Linked DNA regions of Homo sapiens: region 2 is linked to region 1. Evidence: fine-mapped expression QTL. A gene starts in region 1. The other region holds a variant in brackets. All regions are shown on one strand. Distances are between the middles of the regions.

The links.
Region 2: its variant is fine-mapped to the expression of RNF214 in regulatory T cells (Schmiedel 2018, PIP 0.95).

The regions. Positions count from the first base shown.
Region 1 is chr11:117,231,500-117,234,407 of GRCh38, forward strand. RNF214 (ring finger protein 214) reads left to right here and starts at 1,172. Exons shown (of 15, transcript NM_207343.4): 1 at 1,172-1,227; 2 at 2,768-2,880. The coding sequence starts at 2,774. It overlaps PCSK7 (proprotein convertase subtilisin/kexin type 7), which reads right to left and starts at 574. Exons shown (of 17, transcript NM_004716.4): 1 at 528-574. RefSeq lists an enhancer at 372-421 and silencers at 612-761, 972-1,311.
Region 2 is chr11:117,279,099-117,282,006 of GRCh38, forward strand. It overlaps RNF214 (ring finger protein 214), which reads left to right. Exons shown (of 15, transcript NM_207343.4): 7 at 810-906; 8 at 1,073-1,161; 9 at 2,216-2,306; 10 at 2,502-2,600; 11 at 2,796-2,908. Among named protein-coding and RNA genes, the nearest start is that of BACE1, 36 kb to the right of the region's middle. The variant A/AGTTT (reference allele first, on the strand shown) is at 1,200.

The sequences.
Region 1 (2,908 bases):
CTCCTTCAGACTCAGTAGATCCCACCACAGATGTCAGGAAGAAAGAGAAGCAGGAGCTCCTTCTGTCTACTAGTGGCAAAGCAGCATTTTTATCCCCCAGGCTTCTGGGAAAGGAACCTTAAATGCCTTCTGAAAGCAGGTCTCAACCTCTCCCAACGGCTAGGCCTCCCTTTACAGCTCTTAATTGACAAGGAAGAAGAGAATGGGCAGCCTGGAGTCCAAGATCCTGCTCCCAAGCTACTGTCCTCGCTGTTCCACACCCGGCTCCTAGAAGCCAGCTTGGGTACCGGGTCAGTTTCCCGATTCTCCCTCCGTCGGCCTCGATCGCTCCGTGCAATGTGCCCCTCTCCTCATTAGCACCCACATTATCCAGGAATTCTGGGCCCTGGGGCCCCATCTCCTTGGTCCCCCACGCCAGGACCTCAGGCACCCTCTGTGCAGCTCCCTCATCCTCAGACGCCGGCTTCCCCCACTTCTGGGGCCCCCTGACCACCCAGGTCCAGCCCCACACCTAGTTCCCAACTCACCGGCCCCGCCGCAGCTGCCGCCGCCTCCCTGCGGAAACTCGCGGCTTCCCGGGAGCCGGAGGAGCAGTGACAGCAGCATCACTTCCGCCCGCGGCGCAGCCAATCAGCGCGGCGCCTGCGGCCCGGCGACCCCCGCGGGCCACAGCAACCGGCGCCCGGGGTCCGGCTCCCGCGGGCGGCCTACGCAGGCAGGGGCCGTGCGGGCGCTGGGGGCTGAACCCGCGGGCTCCGCCTCCCCGAGTCCTCGGGGCATCTTCCACATGGTCCCTCTTCAGAAGGCTCTCCTTCATGGCGTCCTCTGTAAAGGGCATTTCGGTTCCGACCTTTAAAAGCCACTCGTTGCTCTTCTCCTTCTGACCGCCATGGCCCCGACTGTCCCTGTAATCTTCCCAGAGGGGATCCTGCCCACCCAGGTCGCCTTCCTTCTCGCAGTCGGCTCTCCCTTCTTCCCCGCGCCCCGGGAGAGTCCACTTGTATCTCAGGGGTCTCCCGCAGCATCCCCGTGCCCCGGCGGCGCCAGCTGTCGCCGCCAGAGGGCGCCGTCGGGGGCGGCGCGGCGCCACCGCGGCCTCTCCTCTCGCGGCCGGAGCCTCGCCCCCTCCGCTCGTGCCGCCGGAAGTGGGAGGTGCCGCGCGCGGGCCGGCGCTCGACCCCTCCCCCCGTGGCTCGGCCGCCCCCTCCCCCCGCTCCGCCCGCTCAGGTGCGTCCCGTCCCTCCCCCACTTTCCTCCCGGGGGCGCGGCGCGGGAGGTGTGTGCGGGGCGAGCGTGGGTGGGGGTTGCGGGGCGAGGGCCGGGCATGGGGGTCGGGTGGGGGGCGTGGAGGGTGCTGTGAGAACCGAGGCGGGGGTCCCGGCCTAGAAGTGGGACGGGGGGGTGGCTGGCAGCGGGGTGGGGGGACCGAGGGGAAGGGGTGGAGGGGGGTCTGGTCCGAGCCAGCGGCCAGCCTAGCAGTCCCCTGTGGGGGGTGGCCAAGGCCACCCAGCGCCGCTTCCCCCCATTGTCCCCTTCCCGTCTGTCCCCTGTTCTCGCCCGAGGACCCGTGGCTCCGGCGCCCCTGCTTCGCTGGTGGTCGCCCCGGGTTGCGGAGTTCTTTTTGGTACACTCGACCCTCCAGCCAGCTGTTCCTACCCGCGCCACGGGCTCTCTAGCCACGGAGTTGCATGCATGGCCCTTGTCCTGGGGTTTCGTTCACCGGGCGCAGAGGACCCCCCAGCCCTGGGCTATGTTGGAGACGGGATGTTTGCACCTGAGGGAGCAGCAATGGCGGTTTGGGCCCATTTTCTCCCAGGAGCTTTGTATAATGAGGGAAACTGAGGCACAGAGGGTCTGTGGGCTGTGACTGAGGTGTTGACACAGCCCCATCTACCTATCTGCCCTATGCGCTCTTCAGTGTTCCGGGGGGGAATACGTGTGATGCTGTTAAAATAAAAGCAAGAATGCAAACTAACCCGATGTTCATCCCCACCTCCCAAGTATTTTGATTTTCTTTTCTCCTCATAAGGTCATAAGTTTGCTCTGCGGCATAAAAGATGACCTTTTGATTTTTAAAAAAGGCGTCCGTCCCAGTTCCCTTACTTGTGTTACCATGTTTTTTACCTTGACTTTTTCACGCTAGAGAACCCAGGATTCTTTTTTGCACCACTAGTCACTCTGAAGAGTCTGTTCTTTGCTCAGTTAGTGGGTATCAGGCCTTTCCCATCTGTGGGGAGCACGCTGACAGTAAAATATGCACCCTGGATTGCCCAGTATTGCATTACTTGTTGACTTACAGGCAGACACCTCCAAAAACTTCCCTTAAATTAATGGAGAATGCTTTGAATGTAACAGCCATAAAGTGATTTAAAAACATGAGATCTGATTGATACTAGGCCGAAAAGTACGTCTTTTATTAAAAATGATAGCAGACAAGGTAGGCCTGGGACCACTTGGAAGATCCTGGCAGACTAAGATGTATTGTTTGAAATGACTACATTTCTGCCAAAAGTGAAAATAAGATCTTTGCACAGACTCCTAGATATTTATGTAAATACAGTGACTCCTGAGGATTGCTGCCCACTAGGACACTAGGACTTTGCATACAATGTCTCTTTTAGTACTCTTAAGTATTTTCTCCCGGAGCCCAGGTTTTTGTGTTTCTTTACTGCGACAGCTCTGTTGTGTGGACATTCTGAGGGGGGAGAGATACATTTGTTTTAAACTTTGGAAACTTGTAGCCTGTAATTTGTTTCTGAATGTACAGAGCATAATGGCAGCGTCTGAGGTTGCTGGTGTTGTGGCCAATGCCCCCAGTCCTCCGGAATCTTCTAGTTTATGTGCTTCCAAATCAGACGAAGGTCTCCCAGATGGTCTAAGGTAATGTGTGGACTCCTGACTGGGAAGA
Region 2 (2,908 bases), 48 kb after region 1:
AAAAACAAACAAACAAAAAAGTGGACCCCTGTGTTTGGTCCTGCATTCATTCTTCAGGACCCATACTAAAAGACATGTTGGGAAATAAGAATGCAGAATGCCATAATGGTTTTGAATCCTCTTGAACGTAGAAGAATGTTCTGCCTTCAATGGAGGGCTTTTGTTCTAAGATGCAGTCTTTTTCCTGCTGTAGGTAACTTTATTTTAGCAAGTGGAGATACAAACTTTTTTTTTTTTTTTTTTTTTTTTTTGAGACAGAGTCTCGCTTTGTAGCCTAGGCTGGAGTGCAGTGGTGCAATCTCGGCTCACTGCAACCTGCGCCTCCCAGGTTCAAGCAATTATCTTGCCTCACCCTTCTGAGTAGCTGGGACTAGGCGACAGGCGTGCGCCATCACGCCCAGCTAATTTTTGTATTTTTAGTAGAGATGGGGTTTCACCACGCTGGCCAGACTGGTCTCAAACTCCTGATTTCAAGTGATCTGCCCATCTTGGACTTCCAAAGTGCTGGGATTACAGGCGTCAGCCACCACGCCCGGTCACAACGTTTTTACTTTCAAATATAGGGCCATTATGCAACTGCAGACCACTGTAAACATTATTTGTCTGTATCTATATTTGATACTTATACTCCAGCTCTCTTTTGATTAGCAAAGAATAAAGAAGAAAGAAAAATAAGTATAGTTAATACTTAGAGTAAGACTTCCTGTAACATACTTGGCTGACCAATTTTGGGTTGTACTTTTGCCCTGGTATCTCTCAACAAGCTTATCTTTCTTCCTTAGTCTTGTTCTTGGTTTCTTATCTTACAGAGAGGTGTGGGAAATGGAACTGGATAGACTCAAGAATCAGGATGGCGAAATAAATAGGAACATTATGGAAGAGACTGAACGGGCCTGGAAGGCAGAGGTGAGAAGAGGAGCTGATATCTTGAAAGTCTTAGTTTCAGGCTTCCAGATGGTATCTACTTTTGGCATTGTAATAGGAGAGCCAGTAAGCATTTGTTTTCACTACCTAGAGGTACCTTTGTGTATGTAAAATTAATAAAGTATTTATATGTGTGTGGCTTCCTTAGATCTTATCACTAGAGAGCCGGAAAGAGTTACTGGTACTGAAACTAGAAGAAGCAGAAAAAGAGGCAGAATTGCACCTTACTTACCTCAAGTAAGTACCTTTCCGTTCTAGAGCTTTAATTGTTTTGC[A/AGTTT]GTTTGTTTGTTTGTTTGTTTAGGTTTTTTCATTCCTAGGCCAGCTAGTCTGGCACTTATTCTATCTGCACAGGAATTGTAAGGCTATCTCTGTCTGCAGTAGCAATTGCTCAGTGGTTTTTCCTCTCACATTCTAAAGTTCTGTACTGTAACTCTTCCCTGCTACAGTTTTATAGTTTTGCATTTTTTAATGTTTTGTTTCCATTTGGATAAACACTATCTGTTAAAGCCAGACGTAATAGCATGCTCCTGTAATCCCAGCACTTTGGGAGGTCGAGGCAGGAGGATCACTTGTGCCCAGGAGGCCGAGGCTGCAGTGAGCTTTGATGGCATCACTGCACTCCAGCCTAGGTGACAGTGAGACCCTGTCTCTAAAAAATAAAAAATAACCAGCATCTGTTAACCTATAAAGCATAACAATGATCTTTGGAGATTCATTTCCTATGTAGTCATTTATTTTCTTTCTGCCATGGAACTTGGAGGACCCTTGTGGCATTTTCAGGCAGACAAGAACCCTCTCTCTGTTGTTGGTTCTCTTTCTCAATTACTTAAAAGATACTGGAGTTAAAGTGAGGCAAAGGAATTCGAATCTTGGGCTTCTCCTGCACCTGCTCCCACCTCTTCTCAACGGCAATTAGCCAGCTACTATTTTGCTTTTGCTATCTCAGAGAATTAGGAATAGGGCTTTTTTTTTTTTTTTTTTTTTAATGACAGGGTCTCCCTCTGTTGTGCAGTGGTGCCATCTTGGCTCACTGCAACCTCCATCTCCTGAGCACAAGCCATCCTCCTACCTCAGCCTGCCAAGTAGCTGGGACTATAGGCGTGAGCCACCACACCTGGCTAATTTTGCATTTTTTTAAGAGACAGGGTTTAGCCACATTGCCCAGGCTGGTCTAGAACTCCTGAGCTCAAGTGATCTGCCCGCCTTGGCCTCTTGTGCTGGGATTACAGGCGTGAGTCACTGTTCCTAGCAGGGCTTTCTTTAAATCTGTAAATTCCTGTTGGTTTCTTGAAAGGTCAACTCCCCCAACACTGGAGACAGTTCGTTCCAAACAGGAGTGGGAGACGAGACTGAATGGAGTTCGGATAATGAAAAAGAATGTTCGTGTAAGTGTATCTATGAGTCATCATTCAGTCAGTGTTAGTCTGTGCTTAACACTTCCAGCAATTGGGAGGTAGCCTTTTGCATTGCCATTTGGGGCCTATCCTACTATTCCTTTTGTTTTCCTGATAATGGATGGTGCTGTCTTTCTAGAGAGCCTGAGTCAGTTCAGCAGTAAAAATAATCCTTTTTTTTTTTAGGACCAATTTAATAGTCATATCCAGTTAGTGAGGAACGGAGCCAAGCTGAGCAGCCTTCCTCAAATCCCTACTCCCACTTTACCTCCACCCCCATCAGAGGTAAGAGAGTGGCTTTGGGGGGAAGTTCACCTTTCTGTGTTGGTAGCAGCAGCAGAGTCTTCTGCGTGTTCTTTTTATGAAGATATTGGGACCATCCCTATTCAGTGCAAGAGTTGTTCATTGATGTCTTCTCCAGTTTCCTAAACTTTCTTTTTCTTCCTTTCTCTCTCGTCCTCTACCTCTTCTCCTCTGCAGACAGACTTCATGCTTCAGGTGTTTCAACCCAGTCCCTCTCTGGCTCCTCGGATGCCCTTCTCCATTGGGCAGGTCACAATGCCCATGGTTATGCCCAGTGCAGATCCCCGCTC